Regions from separate parts of the Homo sapiens genome. Here regions 1 and 3 are each linked to region 2. The links come from fine-mapping of genetic effects on gene expression. A gene starts in region 2. Each other region holds a variant in brackets. All regions are shown on one strand. Distances are from middle to middle.

Region 1 (8,169 bases), 34 kb before region 2:
GTGCAGGGCAGGACAGCTGGGACAGCAGGTGAGGTGCCTGGGTCAGTGCTGATAGGGCAGTCAGGCCGCCACTGACCTGAGCATCCTGCAGGGGGAGGAGGCGGCCAGGCGCTCTACATCGATGGGGACCTGAACCGGGGCCGCACAAGCCACTGCGACACCTTCAACAACCAGCCCCTCTGCTCCGAGAACTTCCTCATTGCTGCCGTGGAGGCCTGGGGCTTCCAGGACCCTGACACCCAGTGACGGCCTGTGCCACGGTGACTGAGCCGTGGTGGGGCGGTGGGCCGAGGCTGGGCTGCCGCCTCGGGCAGCAGAGAGCAGATGAAACCCCCATGTGGTAGGCAGGGTTGGGGGACGGCAGGACCCCATGGCCAAGCCTGGCGTTGCCTGGACCTGCTGCTGCCTCTACCTGGGGTTTGGGCTGGGCTTCCCCAGTCCACCTGCATCTGGGTCAGAGCTGGAGGGCCTGCTGTGCCCCCAGCCCCACCCAGAGCTGGCATAGGAAGTACCTTCCTCCTCCGTGGAGGCTTCCATAGCCCAAGGCCTTGGGAGTGTCTGGGTCTTGCTGCCCCTGAGCCTCTCTAGGCAGCCTGAGCCCCTGGGGTGGGAGTACAACGGCAGTGGGAACGTGCAGCTAAGGGTGGGCCTGTGGTGCCCCCTGCTGGTGCCGCATAGCATCGCGCCCTCCTGAGCAGGGCCCTGCAGCCTGGCTGGCTGGCGACTGAATCCCAGCGTAGATCCCGAGAACAGACTGGCACCCTTGGGCCTGCCCCCTGGCGGACCCCACCCCCTGTCCTGGGCGTTTGCCCCAGTTCCCTCCCCAGGCCTCCTGGGCCACCTCTCACATTAACCCTTCTTGGCTGCCTCTGAGGCTCCCCTGGGCTGCGTTTGGGAGCTGCTGGGTGGGAGGAGGAGGGTGGGATTTGTGCTGGGCTCCACCCCCAGGGAGGGTGGGAGCTGGAGGGGGATGTCACATGTCCTTGTGTTTCTGCAGAGCCTGAAGCTTTTGCTGGGCCTCCCTGCGTGTTCCCATCTGAAGAGGTAGCCCCGGGAGAGGCCCTCAGGGACCGACCCAGACCAGCAAGCTCCATTTCCAGGGGTCTGCCCAGAGAAGCCTGGACCCAGGGGGCTTCTCAGCTCCCCTCCCTTCCAGCCCAGGCCTCCTTGAGCTCCTGTAGCCTCTGCAGCTGCCCATTTCACCTCTTTGTCATTGCAATGACCTGGGGCCCAGGGTCACGCCCAAGCCCCTCTTTGTGGCATGCTCATCTCAGTGCAGCCCCAACTGCTTCTCTGCACCAGGCCCCGTGCCCTCCCCTGGCCCTGGCCACACAGCACCTCCTTGGCCACCTTGCATGGATGCATGTCCTCCCTCTGTCCCTCTTGTGGTGCTGTGGCTGGCCACGTGTCAGGGTTTTCTGTGAGCCTCTCACCTTACAGCCTTTGGGCCCCTGGGCCCCTGCCCTGCCTGAGCCCTGCGCTGGCCAGACGCAGGTAGGTGCCAGGGGAGGCCTTGCCTCTGGGCACTATAGGGGGCAGCCCCCTGCCTTGTGACCTCCCTCCATGCCCCATGACCTCCTTCAACTCGTCTTGAGGGTCTGGTCACCACGGAGGGGAGAAGGGAGACACAGAGGCCCAAGTGGCTGTTCTGGGACCATGGAAGCCTGGGTCACAGAGGCAGGTACCAGCAGTCCTGCCCCCACCCCCGTCCCTGCTGGCCTCCAGCCAGTGCCACTTGGAGTCCCCTGCACCGTGCCACTTTCCATCCCCACACCATTGCCTGCTCCTCCCATGGGGCTTTAGCCTCCCCTGACCATCTGCTCATGTAGCCTCTGACTGGGCGCACAGTGGTGCAGGAGGAAGGACCGGGAACCCTGTGTGGCTTTGGGCAAGCTGACAAACCCGTCTGGAACTCAGTTTCCCCAGCTGTGAAATGGGGCCAGTCCCCATGCCCTGCTGTCCTCCTCACAGGACTGTTGAGAGGCTCGCAGGGGGATGGGGTGAATCCCTCTCACGGGGAGAGGTATGGGAGGGAAGTCGCCACTCATCTCAGCCCACCGCAGCCCTCCAGGCCCCCGCCTGAGCCCCTGAGGCCCTCATCTGTACCGCCAGCTTTGGTGTTCATTAAACATGGTCTTGCTGCATCAACTCCAGGGCTCCAAGCTGAGTCTGATCTCTTCAGCCAGAGGGGCCTCCGGGGGCTTCCTGGGCCTACAGCCAAGCAGGTGTGGGAGGCTGCCCGCTGTAGTGCTCACCCACATTCTATGACTGGAATGCTGCAAGCCTCTTCCAGAGGGAGCCCTCCAGGAGCAGGGAAGTCATATCCGTGGACCATTTGTAGGTTTCCCTCTGCAAACTTCCTGAACTGGGTGGTGATTTTTCTGGCGAGTTAAGTCCAGCAGGTTCTGCGTGGCTGCCCCCAGGGGGCCCCACCCGGGCCTTCCAGTGATCTGGACCAGGAAGACGGATTGCTGCTGGGTCATGATTTCCACATCATGAGCGAAGTTCTTTGTTTTTTGTGTGCATGCAAAATATTGTTTCTTTAAATTTAATATCTTTTCCTAACTTTTCTACTAACCTAGAAGGTATGTGTGATTATTATCTTTTTTATTCTTATCACTGTACTTGTTAGTATCTGATATTAGGTATTCCCAAATAGAACATAATTTATTTTGTTAATGTTCTCTATTTCTTCTTGATTATTTATTAGCTTTGGATGTTAAAAATTAGCCAAAAGTGGCTGCTCTGCCTATGAAGTAGCCATTCTTTGTTTAAAAAAAAAAAAAGCCAACATTTGTTGAAACTGCATAATAAATTATCATTTGTTTTTAGAAACATTCAAAGAATTATTTTTTGATTTTTTTTTTTTTTGGGACAGAGTCACCCAGGCTGGAGTGCAGTGGCATGATCTTGGCTCACTGCAACCTCCGCCTCCTGGGTTCAAGCGATTCTCCTGCCTCAGCCTCCTGAGTAGCTGGGATTACAGGCATACGCCACCACGCCCAGCTAAATTTTTTTTGTATTTTTAGTAGAGGCAGGGTTTCACTGTGTTGGTCAGGCTGGTCTTGAACTCCTGACCTCGTGATCCACCCCCCCCTCAGCCTCCCAAAGTGCTGGGATTACAGGCGTGAGCCACCGCGCCTAGCCTATTTTTTAATTTTTTTGAATAGACCACTTTGTGCTGAATAAATGTTTAACATTTATTTTTAAAACAACAATTGCACCTAATTTAAAATAGTTTATTAAATGAATTCATTAAAGCAGATTATATGCCTTTGGGGCTTCAGAAAATCAGTTTAAGCAAAAGAACTTATGAGAGTAAGTCATTTGTACTTGAATTTTTTCAGAGTTTTAATGAACTAAAGTATTTTAATTTTTCTATTTTTGTAAGCCGCATACTTCATTTTTTGAGTTTTTCAGTGGAATTTGTTTTAAAACGTTTTGAAGATTTCAGAGGCCTTCATATTTCTCTTATCCACTTTCTGAACCCATAAAGCCTTTGCAGTCTCCTTGAGTAGTTTATATTTAGTAATTTAGTTGTGTACCTTTTTATTTTGAAGTAATTTTTGATTTGCAGAAGAGTTGCAGAGACGGTACAGGGTTTCCATGTACCCTCACCTTCCCCCAAGTCAATATCAAAACAAAGAAATAAGCATTGTTGCATTGCTGTTAACTAAACCACAGGCCTATTGAGATTGTCCCTTTTTTTTTTTTTTTTTTTTTTGAGACAGAGTCTCGCTCTGTCGCCCAGGCTGGAGTGCAGTGGCGCGATCTCGGCTCACCGCAAGCCCCGCCTCCCGGATTCACGCCATTCTCCTGCCTCAGCCTCCTGAGTAGCTGGGACTACAGGCACCTGCTACCACACCCGGCTAATTTTTTTATATTTTTAGTAGAGATGGGGTTTCACCGTGTTAGCCAGGATGGTCTTGATCTCCTGACCTCGTGATCTGCCCTCCTCGGCCTCCCAAAGTGCTGGGATTACAGGCGTGAGCAACCGCGCCCAGCCGAGATTGCCCCGTTTTTTTCCCACTGTCCAGGAATCGATTTAATTTTTACAGTTGTTTACTTTCTCACATTTTTACTAAGTCCAGAATATCATCAAACTCACAAAACCACTGGTCAAAAAAACCCAAATGGCCACTAATTAGGCAATACAGCACCTGCCTCAAATTTGGGTTCATATAGATTTTTTTCCTCCCTTTTTGTGGAGAACATAGTCTTGCTGTGTTGCCCAGGCTAGTCTTGAACTCCTGGACTCAAGCAATCCTCCCGCCTCTGCCTCCCTAAATTCTGGGATTACAGGCGTGAGCTGCTGTGCCCAGCTCATCCAGATTCTTGCTGGTTCTCTTTCTCAGCCTAAATGTCTTGTTTGCGTGGAGAAATTATCAAATGAAGCAGGAGTGCCAAACAAGCCTCATAGGCTCTTCACCCTACAACATCTATGTTAGGTAGAAAAGTATGTGGATTTTTAAAAATCATCTGGTATAAAGAGTTTTTAAGAACTATCTTCATCATCTTAGTATCAGATTGTGCTTGAGAAGTTAGGTACAATGTAATGTGATTCATTGCTAAAAACAAAATGCCTCCCACAATTGCAGACTCACTCATTTTACCAAACTATGGAATTTGTCAACACCTTTTCTTGGGACCAAGGAAGCAAAGTCAGTGGATACCGTGTCCTGTAGACATGTCACTTGTGATAAGGCACGGACAACATGAACTGG[C/T]AAAAACATTGGCATTTGGTCAAATGCTTATGAGCTAAGGATAGAAGGGAAAAAATAGTTGTGTGAATGATTTTACCTCTTAGTTCTTACGAAGGATGGTTATCGGGCTGGAAAAATGTTTATTGGACTGATGCTTTGGAGCCTCTCAATGAATGTAATAAAAAAAATGTGTAGTGAGCACAAATGTATGGATTTGCAGCACAATCCAACTTTGAAAATGTGAAAATAAGTGAGTTAGTGATATGTTTGGTTGGTGTTAATTTGAGTCCTAAATAAAATCGAGAACTGGTAAAAGAAGGTCACTGTGAAATAACTTGCTATGAGAAGGCTTAGAGGGATGGGAAGTCCTGGACGCCTCTTCTCCAGGGTGTTGGAGGAGAGAGGGAGGCGCTAGGTTGACAAGACCGCATCTGCGCATTGTGGTCACCAGCGAGTCTCTCCACTGAGGCGACAGGTACATGTCTGTCGCATTTGCAGCCGTGGCCGGTGAGAACGGCAGCATTCCCTGATCCGTCTTGTTTTCTTTTGTTCCTAGTGCCTGCTGTGTGGACAGCTACACTCAGCAAAGTCTTAGGGAGACTTAGAGGAGTCACCATGAAGAATCAGTGTCAGACGTTTCATCAGGAATCCCTGTCAAGGCCGGGTGTGGTGGCTCACACCCGTAATCCCAAGACTTTAGGAGGCTGAGGTGGGTGGATTGTTTGAGGCCAGGAGTTTGAGAGCAGCCTGGGCAGCACAGGGAGACTCCATCTCCACAAAAAAATAGTGAAGAACCCCTGTCGTGTGTAAAACACGAGTATCAAAAAACAAACTCAACCTTTCTCATTCAAAATTTCAAAATGAGTATTTCCTTTGAAAGTTTGCGTCTCTCTCTCTCTCTCTCTCTCTCTCTCTCTCTATATATATATATATATATATATAATTTTTTTTTTTTTGAGATGGACTCTCACTCTGCCACCTAGGCTGGACTGCAGTGGTTCAATCTCGGCTCACTGCAAGCCCCACCTCCTGGGTTCACACCATTCTCCTGCCTCAGCCTCCCGAGTAGCTGGGACTACAGGCACCTGCCACCACGCCCGGCTAATTTTTTTGTATTTTTAGTAGAGACGGGGTTTCACCCTGTTAGCTAGGATGGAATTATCTCCTGACCTCGTGATCCACCCGCCTCGGCCTCGCAAAGTGCTGGGATTACAGGCGTGAGCCACCGCGCCTGGCCACGTCAATATTAATGAATGTCTTTTTTTTTGTTTGAGACGGAGTCTTGCTGTATCGCCCAGCCTGGAATGTGGTGGTGCGATCTTGGCTCACTGCAACTTCCAACTTCCAGGTTTGAGGTATCCTCCTGCCTCAGCCTCCTGAGTAGCTGGGATTACAGGCACCTGCCACCATGTCCGGCTAATTTTTGTATTTTCAGTAGAGACCGGATTTCACCATGTTGGCCGGGCTGGTCCCTAACTCCTGGCCTCAAGTTATCCGCCTGCCTCGGCCTCCCAAAGTGCTGGGATTATAGGGGTGAGCCACCGTGCCCGGCCACGTCTTTTTAGTACCTTGTGTTTAATTGTGGATCGGTATAATACAAAGAAAAATAGAATGCCTTTTTTCTTTTGAGCCCTGCACAGATGCCCCCTCCCTGTCCAGTTCCTCCAGTGAGACCGAGGCTGCTGGGGGCCCTCCCTGCAGCTGCTGTGGAGCCTCTGCCTGCCGTCACGTGAGCTGCCTCTGCCCACTCTATGCTCCTGGGTTCCTCTTCCCCAGACTGGCCACGGGGGTGGCCCCTTCCTGCCAAGCCCTCTTTCTTTGCTCCTCTGAACACCTTCCTTCAGTACCTTCAGGGGACTGTTGGGGCAGCACCTGTCCCGGGTCTGAGAGGCCTCCTGGTCTGCTAGCCTGGCAGGAAGCTTGGCCCCCAACACAGCCACAGGCTCTCTGGCACCAGGTTTCTTTCAGTTCCTCTGAACTGAAAGCCTCTGTTTCCCGGCCTTTGCGCGTGCTATTTGCCACTCCTCATGCCTGGGCCCTAGTGTCCCTCCCAGGATTTCCCTGAGCTCCCCGCTGAGGCCGGGTCCGCGTTCTAGCTTCACAGCACCTGAGACAGGTGTTGGCTGGTCTCCCCACCCCCTGTCCTAAAGACTGTCAGTCTCAAGGGGCAGGAGTGCCTAGCACTGCAGAATGAACTGAAGCCCCTGTGGGTTGGTGTGCGCTGCTGCTGTGCGTCCAGGGTGATCAGAGATTCTCCAGGTGTGCTCCTGGGGCCTGTGGTGGCGGGACACCCCCTTCCCACACCCGCCACGCTCCCTGCAGTAACTCTTGCACTTACTGTAAGTGCTCGGACTGTCTTGTGCTTGACATTAGGACACACACTCAGGCCAGAATTGGGCAAGATTGTCCCTGAGCGGGGCGTGCAGAGCGCTCTGGCCTGGGAGGTGGGGCGCAGGGCTGCTTCCTCCTGCAGGCCAGCTCACTGTGGGGCTGGTGTCTGCCCAGAGCTTGGCCAGGCAGTGCCGCCCCCTCCCTTCCTGCCGCCTCTACCAGCAGCCTTCCCTCAGGCTGCTTTCCGGGCCTAGTCTGTGGCAGGTGTCCAGGGCACAGTCTTCCCTCTAGCCTGCCATGAAACTGTTTCATTTTTCTTTTAAAAAAATTGAAGTGAAATTGACATACTATCCAACCATTTGAACGACCCCAGACAGAGGTGGTGGTTGCATGAATGAGCATGTTGTGGAACCACCACCTCCAGTTCCATGGCATTTCCCCACTCCTAAAGGAAAACCTGGCCCCAGCAAGCAGCTGCTCCCCATGCCTCTCTATCTTATGACTTTGGGTTTCATTTTCATGTTTTTGTTTTTTTGAGATGGAGTCTTGCTCTGTCACCCAGGCTGGAGTGCAGTGGCATGATCTCTGCTCACTGCAACCTCCCCGTCCCGGGTTCAAGCGATTATCCTGCCTCAGCCTCCCTAGTAGCTGGGATTACAGGCACCCGCCACCACACCCGGCTAATTTTTGCATTTTTAGTACAGACGGGATTTCACCATGTCGGCCAGGCTGGTCTCCAACTCCTGACCATAGGTGATCCGCCCACTTTGGCCTCACAAAGTGCTGGGATTACAGGTGTGAGCCATGTGCCCGACCAGTCTGTGACTTACTTAAATACAGACTGGATCATGTTTCTCCCCTGCTCTATGCCCTCTCTTCATCTTTCAAGTCCTAATTCAGAGATCACCTCTTCTGCGACCCACCGAGCTAGTCCCAGCACCTCCTTCCCTTGTCCCCCCTGCTTCTAGGAACCACACTTCTGGTGCGGCATTGGCTGTACCGTTGGGGACGCTACTGCTCCCTGGTAGGCTGCCAGGTCTTGAGGGTAGGGACTCTAACTTGTCTTTGTCTGGCAGGGGCCTCACTCAGCACCTGGCACAATAGTAGGTGCTCAGGGAACTGAATGAATGGATCA
Region 2 (8,169 bases):
TTGTGGGCCAGAGGCAGCCAGGAGACCTTTTTTTTTTTTTTTTTTTTAAGACAGAGTCTCCCTCTGTCACCCAGGCTGGAGTGCAGTGGTGCGATCTTGGTTCACTGCAACCTCTGCCTCCCGAGTTCAAGAGATTCTTCTGCCTTAGCTTCCTGAGTAGCTGGAATTACAGGCGTCCATCACCATGCCTGGCTAATTTTTGTATTTTTAGTAGAGACGGGGTTTCACCATGTTGGCCAGGCTGGTCTCCAACTCCTGACCTCAAGTGATCCACCCACCTCACTCTCCCAAAGTGCTGGGCTTACAGGTGTGAGCCACAGCGCCTAGCCAGTGCTCTTGTCTTTTGAGAGCCCCCTTTTCTCTCACCTGATCTCCCTGCCCCCTATTTTCCCCTTTAGTCTCCTTTCCAGACGCTACTGAGTAGCTTCAGGGTCAGTCTAGAGATGCAATCCAGGTTGGGATCCTTGCTGGGAGAGCCCTTCCTTCCCTGGCTTTGTAACTCAGGGCCTTCTGGTGTGCACACCTGCAGGGTCCAGGCTGGGCCTGTGCTTCTAGCTTCTCTGTGTCTCTCCCTGAGATTGGAATCCTGGCTCTGTCCTCAACTAGCTTGAAGGGGGGCCCCCAGGAATGGCCCCTTCTGGATTTCATACCCTTGTGTAACCTTGTTTCACTTTTTAAAAGATTTTATTTAAAAAGTTTTTTTTTTGTTAGAGACAGGGTCTCACTTTGTTGCCCAGGCTGCTCTCAAACACCTAGCCTCAAGCAGTGCTCCTGCCTCAGCCTCCCAAAACACGCCCGTTCACTTTCTACCAGGGTTGTGTGTGACCAGCAGATGTGTTGGAAGTGATGGTGTGTCACTTCTGAGGTTAGGTCATTAAAGACGCAGCGGCTTCTATCTTGTGTGTGTTCTCTTTTTCTTGGGCCACTCGCTCTGGGGAAAGCCAGCTGCTGGGGCTTGAAAACACACACGCCTGGGAAGAGGCCGCACTGGTGAGGGACGGAGGCCTCCAGCCCACAGCTGTGGGAACGTGGGAATGAACCTTTTAGGAAGTGAATCTTTCGGCCCTGCTCTAGCCTTTAGATGACTCAGTCCTGGCAGCATCTTGATGGCAACTTCACAAGAGAGCCTGAGCCAGACCACCCAGCCTGGCCTCTCCTGGATTCCAGACCCGCAGGAGCCATGAGTTTCTTTGTTGTTTTACACATCAAAGTTTTGAGGCAATTTGTTACACAGCAGTATATAACTAATACACCAGCTGTAGGGCTTTGGGCACGTTCCTTAGCCTCTGCACCCCCGTTTCCTCCCTCGTGCCATGAGCATTGTAGAGGCGAGTGAGGAACACGTAGACGCAGCACAGTGCCACGCACATGAGGCAGCTTTCCAGCCCCTCCCGGGATGGTTGTGGTCATTTTCTTGCCCCTCCCTGGATGGACCGTGACCTCACAACGTCAGGCCAAGTTATTGCATTCTTGGCCTGAGGTCATCCATTGGCCATAGACAGAGGTTCTCGGCAGGAAAGGGTGAGATAAAGAGAGGGGTCAGTCTCTTTCCTCCAGCCCGGGTCGGGAGAACCGTGCTGGGCCAGGTGAGACATCCGCTGTCTGTGCGGTGTCCTGGGATGAGCCACTGGACCTGACCCATGGGGAGATTTGTCTGTGTCGCCAGAGGGCGAGGGGTTTCCTGGTCTAGCTTGCCTTGGGCTTGGCCAAGCATTCTGGCTGCCACTGGGGCCCCCAGGACAACTGAGAACTGTCCTTTCTTCTTTGACCTTCAGCTGCCCCTCTCTCCCCTGTCCCCTGGTGCCTGCTCAGATGCTTTCTTCTTGTGACCCTTGACCCTTGGCCCTTGGCCCCTGCCCCGAGGCTCCTCCACCCTGGGCTCCGTGTTCTAGAGTTCACTGTGTACTAGTTCCTCAAGCTGTTTGTCCTTCACTGCTTCCGATTTTTCTGTGCATTACTCAAGAACTGCATGGGCATGTGTCAGTATAAAAAAAAATAAAGTTGGCCGGGCGCGGTGGCTCACGCTTGTAATCCCAGCACTTTGGGAGGCAGAGGCGGGCGGATCACGAGGTCAGGAGATTGAGACCACGGTGAAACCCTGTCTCTACTAAAAATACAAAAAAATTAGCTGGGCGTGGTGGCGGGCGCCTGTAGTCCCAGCTACTCGGAGAGGCTGAGGCAGGAGAATGGAGTGAACCCGGGAGGCGGAGCTTGCAGTGAGCCGAGATCGCGCCACTGCACTCCAGCCTGGGCGACAGAGACTCTGTCTCAAAAAAAAATAAAGTTGGCCGGGCGTGGTGACTCACACCTGTAATCCCAGCACTTTGGGAGGCGGAGACAGACAGATCACTGGAGTTGGAGACCAGCCCCTGGCCAACATGGTGAAACCCTGTCTCTACAAAAAAATACAAACATTTGCCTGTGTGTGGTGGCACATGCCTGTAGTCCCAGCTACTCGGGAGGCTGAGGCAGGAGAATCGCTTCAACCCGGGAGGCGGAGGTTGCAGTGAGCAGAGATCGAGCCACTGCACTCCAGCCTGGGCAACAGAGCAAATTTCCATCTCAAAAAAACCAAAAACCCAAAACAAAAAAACACAAAAAAACATTATCGACATTAACAACTACAAGGCGCCCGGCTAATTGTATATTTTTAGTAGAGACAGGGTTTCTCCATGTTGGCAGGCTGGCCTCGAACTCCTCACCTCAAGTGATCCGCCCGCCTCGACCTCCGCCTCCCAAAGTGAGCCACCGTGCCCGGCCGTGAATGTGACTTGATAGCCCAGATTTCCTTCCGTGAACGCTTGTTAGTTGTGAAACTAGCAAAGTTGCGCCTCTGAGTTTACGCAGAGCCGGCTCCGGAATCCGAGTTCCGGGTTCGAGCACAGCTCCGCCGCTACCTCGGGCGTGACCTTGGCCGGAGCCTGGTCCCCTCTGAGCCTCAGTTTCCCGGTCTGGGATGCCGGAATGACAGCTCGCCCCCTGCCCCGCCCAGCCCCGCCCAGCCCCGCCCCGCAGGCCCTGGGATTGGTTCGCGCGAGGTCCCCCTCCCCAGGCGGGGTCGGGCCTCTCCCGCCCGCCAGGCCCCAACCCGGAAATGCAGCTGGAGCGGAGGCGGAGCCCACTAAGGCCGCGGCGGAGCGACGATGGGCGCGGCCAATGGGCGCGGGCGTCGGCTGCGGCGCGACGGAAGTCCTGCCCGGCGCCGCGCGGGGGCGGGGCGGCGCCGGGGGCGGGGGGCGGCGGGCGACGGGGCGGGCGCAGGATGAGGGCGGCCATTGCTGGGGCTCCGCTTCGGGGAGGAGGACGCTGAGGAGGCGCCGAGCCGCGCAGCGCTGCGGGGGAGGCGCCCGCGCCGACGCGGGGCCCATGGCCAGGACCACCAGCCAGCTGGTGAGCGCGCGGCGGCGGACTGGACGCGCCGGTTTGTTACCCTGCCGGGTCCGGCGGCCGCCCGGGTCCGGCGAGGCGGGGCGGCCCGGGGTCCCGAGGGCCGGGTGCCTCCTTACCTGCAGCCGGGCGGCCGGGCCGGGGATGGCGGGCGCCGGCCGAGGGCGCTGCTTGGCTGCGGCGGGGAGACCGGGCCTGGGTTGCGGCGGGCGGCGGCCTGGCCGGGGGCGCTGACAGACGCGCGGAGGGCGGGGGAGGCCGGGAGGTGTCACCCGGCCCAGCGGGGTGGAAGTGCCTGGAAAGTTTGTTTTCGGCTTGGCGCAGCCTGGAGCCGAGCCTCCAGGGTTACCTTTCGGTTCTGTCTGTAGAGGAACCGCCCTGGGCTTCCACCTGGAACGGGGTCCTTGGCGCCTCCGCCTGCGAGAGAAGCAGAAGGTGCAAGTTCTTGCTGAAAGCACCTGATGCTCCTGGGCCCCCTTTTCCAGATTCTTGATGACAGTGGTCGGGAAAACTCGCCTTTCACGGCCCGGCCAAGGGGCATTTGGGTGCTTTTGCTGCCCGTGGCTGTGCTCAGCGTTGTGGGAAGCCCCTGGGAGGCCGAATGTGCAGGATCACCGAGGGGAAAGTGAGCTTGACAGGTAGGAGGGATTTTAGGGGAAGGACCAAAACAAACCACTTGTTGGGTGAAATGTTTTGCTAAAAGTGTCGCTGGTGTTTCTATATTTTCTCTCTATCGCTAAAAGTATCCCTCGTGTTTTTATGTTTTCCATATGCTAAGTTCTACAGTCTGGGGACGACGGTTTAAAAATTTATGCCTTGTATGCGATGTGCAGTGGGTGATGGAAGAACGTCTACATGGCTTTAACATTTGATTTAAAAGGCAAATATTTTAAATGAAGGAAAACCCAAGAAATTTAATTGATCCCGTGTCTTCCAGGATGCGGCTTTTTTTTTTTTTTTTTTTTGATGGAGTCTCCCTCTCGACGCGCAGGCTGGAGTGCAGTGATGCGATCTCAGCTCACTGCAACCTCCATCTCCCGGGTTCAAGCGATTCTCCTGCCACAGCCTCCTGAGTAGCTGGGATTACAGGCGTATGCCACCATGCCCGGCTAATTTTTGTATTTTTAGTAGAGAAGGTGTTTCGCCATGTTGGCCAGGCTGGTCTGGAACTCCTGACCTCAAGTGATCTGCCCGCCTCGTCCTCCCAAAGTGCTAGGATTACAGGCGTGAGCCACCACGCCCGGCAGATGTGGCTTTTTGATAGGCGTTCTTGATCTTTTTTTTTGTGGGGCGGGGAGTGGGGGGTTGTGAGTCTGTTTGAGAACCTGAGGAAAGGTATGGGCCCTCTTCTGAGAAAAAGGCAGAGTGACGCTGAATTTTGTAACTACGTCAGGAGGCTCTTGAACTTTCTGCAGCTCACTCGTGGACTTTGTAGAGATGCGTGTTAAGGAAGAAGGTTCAGCTGAGAAAAATGTTGAAGGGATGCCTTTCGCTATTTCGACATGTGTGGCTGTACACCAGAGTGGCCCGGGTAACATAAAAACATGAATTAGGCGGATTGGCCAGGCTCAGTGGAGGCTGGGGCCGAGAGTTATGTCGAAGTTTGTGAGGTTAACCTGCACCCAGTGACAGTCATGGCGAAATTTGTGAGGTTAACTCGCACCCAGTAACGCTGTTCCAATGCAAGGTGTGTATTTGGTGTCATCCACGGGAAGAGGAAAGAGCAAATTTTCTCATGGCCTTGGCAGTTCCACATGATGGACATTTCATATCTGCAGTTTTCTTCGCATGAGATGGCTTTTTTGCACAAAAACACTGGAATCCAGTGAGCAAGAATGATAGAATGCAAGATGGATTTCCACATGAGGAAGTGTCACGAACGAGCGTTTTGCATCTGTCAGCTGGATTCCCCCATGTGTACGTATGTGAGAACATGCCGTGTTTCCTGTCTGTAATGGTAGAGGCAGCCCTGATCCTGGATTTTCACCTGAGGATGGATAGATCTTCAGGGTTCAAGTGGGTTTGCATCTGGACTTTAGGGTGGCCCTGTAGGCCCTGTGTGAGAAGCCCCCTTCCCAGTGAACTTTCCCTTGTGTGTCCGCGTGGACAGCCAACAGGGGGAGCAGTGCGAGCGTGAAGGCAGACAGTGGCCTGGCCCAGTCTGATGCTAAGTGGGCCAGAGGCAGTGAGTACCATTTCTTGATCTGACTACTCAAGACAGGCGCTTCCCTAGGTACTTTCACACCTCATTGCGAGGTAGGTGTTGTTCCCATTTTACGGGTGCAGAAGCTGAGCTGCAGAGGCGTTAGGTACCTGCCTCATAAGTGGTAGAGACTCCAGTGTCACCCTGCCCCTCACGTTCGGAGCCCCTGAGGGAGGGTCTGCCGGGCAGCTCAGCCCAGCACTCTGTAAGGAAATCTTCAGTGCCACTGCCCAGGATGTCTTCCCAGGGATTGGGCCTGAATGTCTTGACCATGCCGTGCTGGAGGTAGGAGGGGTGTCTTCATATGGAAGAACTGTACATATTTCTTTGGCAGATGGCTGAACTCTGTGACCCCGGGGCCTGTTTCAGCCTCCTGCTGTCAGAAAGCAGCTGTTTGGGAAGAGGCTGTGATTCGGCCTTGTTTGAGGGCCGATACTCTGAATGGGTGAGGCTTGAAATCCTCCCTTTGGAACAAAGAAACATGTAATGATTTTGCTGAAGGTAGAATTGGGGGACTAGGCAGAGTGGCCTCCTGCCCTCCCTAGGGTGGTTCTGTCTTTTGCAAAGGTGGCTGCATCCTTAGGGGAAGGTGAGGGGAGAAGCAGGGAGCATGGAGAGAAGTGGCTTTCGATTTTCTCTCTCCTTTTGGGGAGTTCCTCCTTATGTGGCTGGTCTGGTGCATAGTGTGATGTATTCCTGTACGCAACGTTGCCCTGACAGCCAGTCCAAGCTGAGTCTAGAGCTGGCAAGGTGAGCTCCCAGTGGTAAGAGGGAAGTGGTTTGTTCTGCTTTTCTGAGATGTGTTCTTATGAGAAGGATCCAGCAGCAGCCTGCAGAGATGTGGGGCCTGAAAAGAGGCCTTGGGCAGCTCTTCTTGACAGGTCTTGGCCCTCTAGACTGCCTTCAGCACAGTTTTGGGGAGAAACAGGGAGTGTTCCTTTTTCAGTCTATGCACTCATCCCCTGAGCCGCCTGACCCAGGGTTTAGATGCTCCAGGGCAGCTGATTGACACCGGTGGGAGACGGAGTCTGGCAAGCAGGTGATGAACTGGGAAGCGCTGCAGAAATGAGGGGGCAAGCGTGGCCAGTCCCTTCTGAGAGGATGTGTTTGGAAGAGAGTGGGCACTGGCGTGGCACTTTCCCCTTCTGAGGAAATGGACAGGATGCCACGTGGTGCTGCAGTTCTGTGTGGGGCAGGTTGTGGCTGCAGAGAAGCCCTGGGTGCAGAAACAGTCCCCCAAGCAGGTGCGAGGGCCAGGGTGCTCTATGCTGCTCCACACCTGCTGTGCGATGACATGTGGCCACTGGGCTGCCCAGCACAGTTGTTTAGAAAGCAGGTTCAAAGGGCAGTGTGCTGGGAGGAAGTGCTGCTGTGGAAACTGCAAGTTTTGGACATGAGTTGCTCAGGTCTTTTCAGCCGTGCATTCTTCTACAGCAGAATTGCATTATTCACTTGCTCAGTGTGATACCATGTCCTTTAAAAAATTATTTGAATATTGAGAACAGGTTGTATGTTCCGTCTCTAGCTGCTAGATCACAGGCAGGGCACATCTTCTCAAAGAGTAACAAGGCATGGGTTGTGTGTGTTCTCTTCTCTTAGTGAGGAGAAAGGCCTGTTTGGGTTCATGATGATTGTTGGGGTCTCTTTTCTGTACCTGATGTTGGTTGCACAAAGTCCGTTTCCATTCTCTTAGTCTAGACAATTTTCCTGATATTTAAACTGGAATTTTTGCTCCAAGAAATTCCAGGTCATTTAGAATGTGTTAAGATTGAGTTTCTGGGCTACACATCCCTTATAAGAGCACCTGATTCTGGTTTCTGTTTGTTTATTTATTTATTTTTTCGAGACAGTCTCGTTCTGTCACGCAGGCTGGAGTACAGTGGCATGATTTTGGCTCACTGCAACCTCCGCCTCATGGGTTCAAGTGATTCTCGTGCCTCAGGCTCCCAAGTAGCTGGGATTACAGGTGCGCACCACCTACATTATTTATTTATTTAATTTATTTATTGAGATGAGGTCTCACTATGTTGCCCAGGCTACTCAAACTTCTGGTCTCAAGGGATCCTCCCGCCTCGGCCTCCCAAAGTGCTGGGATTACAGGCATGAGCCGCCGCACCCAGCCTGGTTTCTGTTTAAAGAGTTGGATTATACAGGGACCCACAGAATTGGGAACTGACAGTACTGTAGAGCCTGTGTATGAAAAAGATGGACAAGCCTGACATTAGCAGCTCACTGTTGAGCACACGGCCCCCTGCAGAATAAACAAGTGTGTGGTTTCCATCTGATGAAGGTGGGCATGTAGTTCCTGGACAGTCCAGTGACTTCCGTCATTCCACAGACAAGATCAGATGCCCTCTCTACCAGCCACCGTGCTGGGACCGGCCCAATCTGTGTTTCAAGTCAGCTTGTAGCACGCAGGGATTCGAAATATTTAAAGATGAGGTTTGAAGGTAGGTCTGGAGACCAAGGACGTTAGTTCTGGAGGTCCCCGTCTCCTGCGTGTTTGCGGAGCTGGTGACAGTGCCCTCTCCCCGTGCTGGAGAGGGCTGAGGAGAGGCTGTGTGTCTCAGCAGGATGCC
Region 3 (8,169 bases), 750 kb before region 2:
TCTCGGGCGCGGCCCTCCGGAGAGGAACAAAGGCGGCGCCCTGGCCGCGCTGCTACCGCCGCGCCCGCAAGGTCAGCGCGCCCGCCCAGAGCCCGAGACGTCGGCCCGTGCCCCGCCACTCACCTGCAGCCCCCGCTGCGCGCTCCGCCGGCCCGGCCCTGACCCACTTTCCGCCCCGGAGCGAGACGTAAACAATCCCCGCCCCCTGCGCCCATTGGCTCCGGCGGCGAGGGGCGGGCACACCTGTCTCGGAGCTTCGGGAGAGGGGGCGGGAGTCGGGTGACAAAGCTATTGCCGAGAGGTTTCAGGAACTGTCAGTCCTAATCCAACGTTCCTATTGGTCAGTTCCCAAGCGGTTGGAGACAAAGCTCGCGCGCACATTGGACCCGGGTGGGAGGTGGTACCGCAGGCCGCGTTGACCGGAAAGTAGGTCCGTGTCATCGTCTGCGCCGGAACCTGCGGGACCGGATCGAGAGCTCCTCCGGCAAGCTGATTGGCTGGGACAGCAGGATTAGGCCTGTCAAGAAGAGCCACGGGCGGGCACGCACTGCCCATTGGTTGGAAGGCCCTTCGCTCTAGCTGGGAGGCTGACGGCCCGCGGGCGTAAGCGGACTGCAGCCGCGAGCTCCTGGAGGCGGCGGGATGGAGGCGGCGGCCGGTGAGTGGCGGGCCAGGGTGCGGAGCCGCTCCAGGGCCTCGCTTGGGGCCCCGCCGCGTCCCTTCCCGGGGCGGCCTCGCTGCGTCGCGCGCCTCCGGTGCGACCATCACCGGCCGGCGTGGCTGGGCCGGGCCAGAGGCCGCGGCGCGGGCATTTTCTAAACAGGGTCGTTTCCCGCGTGCTCCTGCTTCGATGTGGAAGCTCCGTGATCTCGGAGGGCCTGAGTCGTGGAGTTGGGGGAGCTTTTAAAGTTAACTTTGTTGAGCACCGCGTTGTAGGCGGGCGCGGTGGCGCCTGTGGGCCCCGCTATCCTGGAGGTCGCGGTTGCAACTGCACCGCAGCCCGGGCAAGAGCGAGACCCTGTCTCTAAATAAATCACACGCGCGCAGTCATGAAAGTAAGACGGACGCCAGAATCTCACATGCTTTTAAGTTCTTTGTGGAAGTGGCGCTCTCAGTGTTCAGAAAAGTGTAAGTTGCGCGGGACAGAATTCACACCAGTGGGGACGATCCGTTCGCCAGATCAGCGCCGTGGGCCCTCCTGAGTAGTGGGAGCCGCATTTATCTTCTAAGAGACCTCGAGTCCGATACCAAAAGGAAAACATTCCTCGGACAGCAAGGTCTTGCAGCACAACTCTGACAGATTAGAAACCGAGTGCTGGAGTCTTTTGTTTTTGAGACGGAGTCTCGTTCTGTCGCCCAGGCTGGAGTGCAGTGGCGCGGTCTCGGCTCACTGCCAGCTCCGCCTCCCGGGTTCACGCCATTCTCCTGCCGCAGCCTCCCGAGTAGCTGTGACTACAGGCGCCCGCCACCACGCCCGGCTAATTTTTTGTATTTTTAGTAGAGACGGGGTTTCACCGTGTTAGCCAGGATGGTCTCGATCTCCTGACCTCGTGATCCGCCCGTCTCAGCCTCCCAAAGTGCTGGGATTACAGGCGTGAGCCACGGCGCCTGGCCCAGTGCTGGAGTCTTATTCCAGAGGAGAAGCCTGGAAAAGCCTGTCCTTATTATCAGGACGGATTTACTACAAAGTAAGGATATTACTGAGATTGATAGAAGCTTTTTTTTTTTTTTGAGACAGGGTCTTAACTGTCGCCAAGGCTGAAGTGCAGTGGCACGATCATAACTCACTGCAGCCTTGACCTCCTGGGCTCAAGCGACCCTCCCACCTCAGCCTCCTGAGCACCTGGGACCACAGGATGCACCACCCCGCTTGGCTACATTTTTAATGTGTAGACATGGGGTCTGAATACGTTATTGAGAGTGGTGCGGAACTCCTCCTGGACCGAAATGATCCTTCCACTTTGGCCTCTCAGAGTGCTGGGATTACTGGCGTGAGTCACTGCACCTAGTCCAAGCTTTCGTTTTTTTGTTGGGGGGAGACGGAGACTCGCTCCGTTGCCCAGGCTGGAGTGCAGTGGCACAATCTCGATGACGGCTCACTGCAATCTCCACCTCCCAAGTTCAAGCAGTTCTCCTGCCTCAGCCTCCCAAATAGCTGGGATAACAGGCACACGCCACCACGCCTGGCTAATTTTTTTTGTATTTTTAGTAGAGACAGGGTTTCGCCATGTTGGCCAGGCTGGTCTCGAACTCCTGACCTCAGGTGATCCACCCACCTCGGCCTCCCAAAGTGCTGGGATTACAGGCGTGAGACACCGCGCCCGGCCCCAAGCTTTCTTTAAACGGGGAAAATATGCACATAAAAATTCAAAAGGCCTAGGCTGGGCAAGTTGGCTCATGCCTGTAATCCCAGCACTTTGGGAGGCCGAGGCGGGCAGATCACTTGAGGTCAGATTTGAGACCAGCATGGCCAACATAGAGAAACAGTCTCTACGAAAAAAATAAAAAATTAGCTGGGCATGGTGGCGCACGCCTGTGGTCCCAGGTACTCTGGAAGCTGAGGCGTGGGAGGCTGAGGCACGAGAATTGCTTGGACCCAGGAGGCGGAGGTTGCAGTGAGCCGAGATTGCGCCACTGTACTCCAGCCTGGGCGACAGAATGAGACCCCCTCTCAAAATAAAAATATACATTTACTGTAAAAATATATTTGTCCACCACGTGGAATGATCTGGATTTGCTAACCCATAAAGCTGACCGGGACTCATTGTCCATGGAGAGCGCACTCGCCTTCCTCGGGGAGATGGTGCTTCGCCTCCTTCCTGCACTTCCAGCCCCACTGCCCCACCCGGCAGGCTCATGCTGACTGTGCTTTGCTGACAATCTGCTTAGGAGCTGCCTCAGTTTGCTGAGAAGTGAAATGTTCTTGGGGGAACCCTCAGGGTTGTTGTCCCGGTTCCTGACACTAAGGCCTGCATTTACCATGGTGCTCAGCCCAACACACCAGACAGGCACCATTCCCCCACCTCTGCCAACGAGGAGAGCCCCTGGGGGTTAACACTGCCGCTGGTGCCAGCACTGATGGCAGCATGGCAGTCAGGACCCAGGCCTGACAGAGTCCCCGGCAGCTACAGAAGTGCATGCTCCCTCTCTGCACGGGCCACTTCTGGTACCTCTTGGTGTTGAAGTAATTTAAGTCAGAACCCCTTTTATTGCCCCAGGGGTGACCGGGAGGCCGTGGTCTCGGGGCTTTGTGTTTGCAGGAGTGTGGGGCTGGGGCTGCCTTTTCCGCGTCCCCTGGAGGAGACCTCAGGCAGCCTCTGTAGGTCTGAGGACCCGCCTGCATGCCAGGTTCTCCGGGAGGCTTTGGACTTGGGAGCCTTTGAACGTGCCCTTGAGAGGCGGATCAGAAGGGGGCAGGTTTTACGCATCATGTGTTGAGCCCCTCACATGCACCCTCCAAGGACCTGTCGGGGATGGAGCAGCTTGCTGGAGACAAGGGGCATGGCCTCAGCGGTGGCGCCGGGGTGAGAATGCAGGGGTTTTGCCAAGGTATCTGCACACAGCAGCCCCTGCCGTGTGGCAGGGACAGGATGGGACCCTGGAAGGAAGAGGAGCTGGAGCTGTGCTGGAAGCAGCCGGCTCCCCTCACTTACCGCACATTGCAGGGACCGAGAGCCGGGGACGCTGGTGTGTGACAACGCGTGGTTGTTGCCACCCACCCTGGGCCCTCTGCTGCCTCTGCCGAGCCCAGGTGCACTGGCTGGGGAAAGAGTGGAGTCTGGTTCCCGTTAGAAATAGCAGGGGGCTGGCAGTTTCATGATCATGTGACCCACGTGTGTGTTTGCACACGCGCACGAAGGAACGCATGCACCCTTCCACACAGCGAGAGGAGTTGGGCAGTTTCCACTCTCAGCAGCGCCGCCTCAGGCAGGTGCAGGGAGTGCCGTGGTCTTAGAGGGTCCCCCCGGGTCTGGGGCTGCAGGGGACCTGCCTGGAGGTCTTTACATCGGGGCGAAGTGGGGCACGGGCTGCCTCTGGGTCTGGCGATTCACCACTGCCCCGCTCAGAACGTGGGTGCAAGAGGCAGTGGGTGACCCCGCGTGTGTGGGCACAGTGGGCACCAGGAGCCCTGACCTTCTCTGTCGTGTTTCCGCCCAGAGCCTGGAAACCTGGCCGGCGTCAGGCACATCATCCTGGTCCTCTCAGGAAAGGGGGGCGTTGGGAAAAGCACCATCTCCACGGAGCTGGCCCTGGCACTGCGCCATGCAGGCAAGAAGGTGAGC[G/A]CCCTACCCCTCACTGGGCGGAGCCCCGGGCAGCTGCCCGCATCCCGGTGGAGGCCTGGCGGTGCCCCCGGCCTAGGCTGTGCCGCTCCTTGCAGGTGGGAATCCTGGATGTGGACCTGTGTGGCCCCAGTATCCCCCGCATGCTCGGGGCGCAGGGCAGGGCTGTGCACCAGTGCGACCGCGGCTGGGCACCCGTCTTCCTGGACCGGGAGCAGAGCATCTCGCTCATGTCTGTGGGCTTCCTGCTGGAGAAGCCGGACGAGGCCGTGGTGTGGAGAGGCCCCAAGAAAAACGGTAACGGCCGGGCGGCGCGTCCGCCGTCCTGGTGAAGGGGGTTAGCGTCCGTGCCGGCCTCTCCTGTGGAAATGTTCCTCTTCAGCAGCCAGGCCTGTTCCTGGGGACCTGCACATGACACCCACGACCAGGCACAGGGCTCAGGCTGGCGGTGTGTCTCCAGTTGGGTCCGTGCTGCCACACAGCTGTCCCCAACTCCCGGTCAGAGGGAGTGGGGTCTGCTGAGACCCTGGCCATGGCATGCAGGGACCTGAGGCCCCAGTGTGGCAGGTCATAGGGGCAGAGCTGAGGGGGTTCTGGTGCCTCTGGAGCAGGTGGCATTAGACGCCCCCAAAGGCAGGGAGAGGCTGGTGGGAGTGAGGCGCAGGCTGTGGGTGCACCAGTGGGGCATCCACCACGGAGAATGTGGGTGCTCCCATGTGTGGGTACAGACGCCTGGAGGGTCCTGGCTCCGTGTTCTGATTTGGGGCCTCGGGGAGTCAGCGGGGGCTCTGTGGGCAGGGGCCAGACACTGCAGAAAGGGACGCTGTAATGGCCCCGGCCCCATCTTTGCACTCCTGCAGCGGGCCAGGGCCTCCCGAGAGCCTGTGATGGAGGCTGGTGGCAAGTGACACCTGATGGACTGCAGCCCCTCGGCCTGACCTGGCTGGTTCTTAGTGGCGCAGGGCCACGTGTGCAGACCTGCCCTGCCCTGACCGCCCCGTCTGCCCCGTCTTTGCAGCGCTGATAAAGCAGTTTGTGTCCGACGTGGCCTGGGGGGAGCTGGACTACCTGGTGGTGGACACGCCCCCGGGGACCTCCGATGAGCACATGGCCACCATAGAAGCCCTGCGTCCCTACCAGCCCCTGGGGGCCCTCGTGGTCACCACGCCCCAGGTAGCGCTGCGGCACCTTCCCGAGTCCCTGTGGGTGGCTTCCCAGAGGGCTGGGCGGGTGTCCCTGCTGGTGCGCCTGGCTGACCGTGGCCTCGGCTCCTGCCCCGCAGGCGGTGTCCGTGGGGGACGTGAGGCGCGAGCTGACCTTCTGTAGGAAGACGGGCTTGCGGGTGATGGGAATCGTGGAGAATATGAGCGGCTTCACCTGCCCACACTGCACGGTGAGTCCCGGGGGTTGCAGAGGGGGCGAGGCAGCACCTGGCCGGTGGGGGCTTTGGGCAGTGCTGGGCTCACCACCGTCTCCTAGGAGTGCACCAGCGTCTTCTCCAGGGGCGGCGGAGAGGAGCTGGCCCAGCTCGCCGGGGTGCCCTTCTTAGGTGAGTGTCCCAAGCTGGTGCTGGGGTCGCGGCCTCCCATTCCATCTCTGCCCTGGGCGGGTTTGACCTCCATGCCCCCAGTGCCCAAGGGAGAGGAGGGGACGGGAGCGGTTTCCTCCTCTCTTCTCGGGCCACACGCCATGCCGCTGAGACCTGCAGGTCATTCGCCCGCGCCCTTCTCAGGGCCCTCTCGGGTGGCAGGACCCAGCCTGCTGGGAGGGCCGCGGGTCTGGAGGTGGAAATCGTCTGGCAGCGCCTCAATCCCCTCTAAGGCCACGGGTGGTTCGGGTGCGTCCAGCTGAGCCAATGGTGGGAGTGGAAGGTGCGGACATGGCGCCACCGCCTCCACTGTGCCCTGCAGGCTCCGTGCCCCTGGACCCTGCGCTCATGAGGACCCTGGAGGAGGGCCACGACTTCATCCAGGAGTTCCCTGGGAGCCCCGCCTTCGCTGCACTCACCTCCATAGCCCAGAAGATTCTGGACGCGACGCCCGCGTGCCTCCCCTGACTAAGGCCACCTTGCAGCCGCTTTCCAGGGCCACCAAGGGCTCTGCTCCAGCCTCTCAGAGAAACAGAGGCCTGGGCTCGGTTCCCGGGCCCTGCAGGGGCAGGCCCAGGCAGCGTCAGCCGGAGAGCTTCTCCCCGACCAGCCCAGCCCCAGGATGTGTCGCACCAGCAGCTCTGCCTGGTTGGCCTGCAGTGCCGTGGTCTGCGTGCTCTGCAGCTGTGAGACGGGGGCGGCCTGGGCTCTCTTCCCATCCATGTTGCCTACCTGTGCCCCTGGCAGCCGCGTGTCCACACAGTTAGCGGAGCGCGGGACTTCTGCAGTCCTCAGGTGACCCCGGGCCTCCAGCACCCTGGGTCGCTGTCATCTGTGTTTAGCTCGGGGAGTGCCCCCTAAGGGGGCGAACTGACCTCAGGCATGTTTTGTAACTGTAGAGGCGCCTGCCATTAAACGTGTCCGCTGCTGTGGCGACAGATCTGATGTTTCTAGAGTCTTCTGTCCTTCGGGGTCAGACAGCACCTGCTTCTGTAAGTTTCTGGGCTGGACTGGGCCAGGCCGGCAGGTTCGTTCGTTCCGTTGTCAACAAGCCCCTGGGCCCAGGTGCTGATGTGTTTGCATCTTATTTGGTGGGAATTCGGGGAGATTTTGTGATAAACCTGACAGCTGGCCCCTTCGCCGTGGAAGAATGGCCTCCCTGGGACACTAAAGGGGCCCCTCCCGGGACAGAGACCAGAAGTCAGGTTGAGAAGGGAGCTCCAATCCCAGGGGTCCCCTGCACCTCTTCCCAGTGAGACCCGAAAGGAAAGCCCTTCCAGAAAGCAGAACGCGCCATTTTTCCCAAAGGAAGAGCTCAGCCTTCAGCAGGGGAGGACCCTGGAGGTGGGGGCCCGGAACCAACCCGGGCGGCCTCTGGGTGGGTGAGAGGGCACCAGGAGCACCTGGGCTGACGATGCCGGTGCCTGGGGGGGGCAGAGACAAACGCCCACGGCATCTGCAGGGGGTGCGGCTTCCCACGCAAGGCGGACGGCCCGCCCCGCGCTCCCTCCTCACCCCACCTCAGCCGCGCCCTGGCTGCCTGGACCACACCCCTCGGGGACACTGCCTGGTCCTCAGGGCGATCCCTCAAAGAGGAGGGGTGAGACGCAGAGCCCCTGGGGATTCGAGTTGGTGCCATCATTCCTGGAGGATGTTCTGGGGAGCCCGAGGGGCAGCCACGGGGACCAGGAAGACACATGGGTGTGGGGCAGTTGGCCAGGGCGGTGGCGGGGCAGGATCCAGGCGGGGGCCCTGGGCGTGGCCAAGCCGGGGAGGAGAGAGGTGAGGAGACCAAGGCGTACCCAGGCAACACCATCCTCCCCTCCCCTGAGCCAGGTGGGTTTTTTTGAGACAGGGTGTTGCTCTGCCGCCCAGGCTGGAGTGCAGTGGTGCAGTCTTGGCTCACGGCAGCCTCTACCTCCCAGGCTCCAGTAGTCCTCCTGCCTCGGCCTCCCTAGGACCACAGGCATGGGCCACCATGCTATGCTAATTTTTTTTATTTTTTGTAGAGACGGGGTCTCTCTTGTGTTGCCCAGGACGGTCTCTCAAACTCCTGGGCTCAAGCGATCCGCCCGCCTCGGCCTCCCAAAGCTCTGAGACCACAGCTGCGCGCCGAGCCCCCAGCCCCCTCCCTGGTTTCACGTTCGCAGTCACCCACTGTGCCTGTTAGATTCGATTGCCTTTGCCTTTAATTGATGACAGCTGGGGGGGCCGCCATGCCTTCCACCCCATCAGGCCCTTGCGTCTTCCAGCAAGTGCACTGGGCAGGCCCCTGAGGACACTGAGGACCTGTCCCCAGCA

Evidence for each region. PIP is the estimated chance that this variant, and not a neighbour inherited with it, causes the effect.
Region 1: its variant is fine-mapped to the expression of PDPK1 in whole blood (INTERVAL, PIP 0.99).
Region 3: its variant is fine-mapped to the expression of PDPK1 in spinal cord (GTEx, PIP 0.98).

What each region holds. Positions count from the first base shown.
Region 1 is chr16:2,500,713-2,508,881 of GRCh38, forward strand. It overlaps TBC1D24 (TBC1 domain family member 24), which reads left to right. Exons shown (of 8, transcript NM_001199107.2): 8 at 92-5,018. The coding sequence ends at 246. Among named protein-coding and RNA genes, the nearest start is that of ATP6V0C, 9.2 kb to the right of the region's middle. RefSeq lists enhancers at 1-199, 6,477-6,977, 6,978-7,478. The variant C/T (reference allele first, on the strand shown) is at 4,725.
Region 2 is chr16:2,534,747-2,542,915 of GRCh38, forward strand. PDPK1 (3-phosphoinositide dependent protein kinase 1) reads left to right here and starts at 3,275. Exons shown (of 14, transcript NM_002613.5): 1 at 3,275-3,390. The coding sequence starts at 3,367. RefSeq lists silencers at 2,782-3,091, 3,202-3,411, 3,422-3,551 and enhancers at 3,670-4,370, 5,434-5,523.
Region 3 is chr16:1,782,379-1,790,547 of GRCh38, forward strand. SPSB3 (splA/ryanodine receptor domain and SOCS box containing 3) reads right to left here and starts at 193. Exons shown (of 7, transcript NM_080861.4): 1 at 124-193. NUBP2 (NUBP iron-sulfur cluster assembly factor 2, cytosolic) reads left to right here and starts at 582. Exons shown (of 7, transcript NM_012225.4): 1 at 582-658; 2 at 4,159-4,277; 3 at 4,379-4,577; 4 at 5,299-5,453; 5 at 5,563-5,673; 6 at 5,760-5,829; 7 at 6,191-6,808. The coding sequence starts at 643. The coding sequence ends at 6,336. IGFALS (insulin like growth factor binding protein acid labile subunit) reads right to left here. Exons shown (of 2, transcript NM_004970.3): 2 at 8,035-8,169. RefSeq lists silencers at 1-160, 661-870, 1,298-1,524, 4,589-4,757 and an enhancer at 371-520. The variant G/A (reference allele first, on the strand shown) is at 4,284.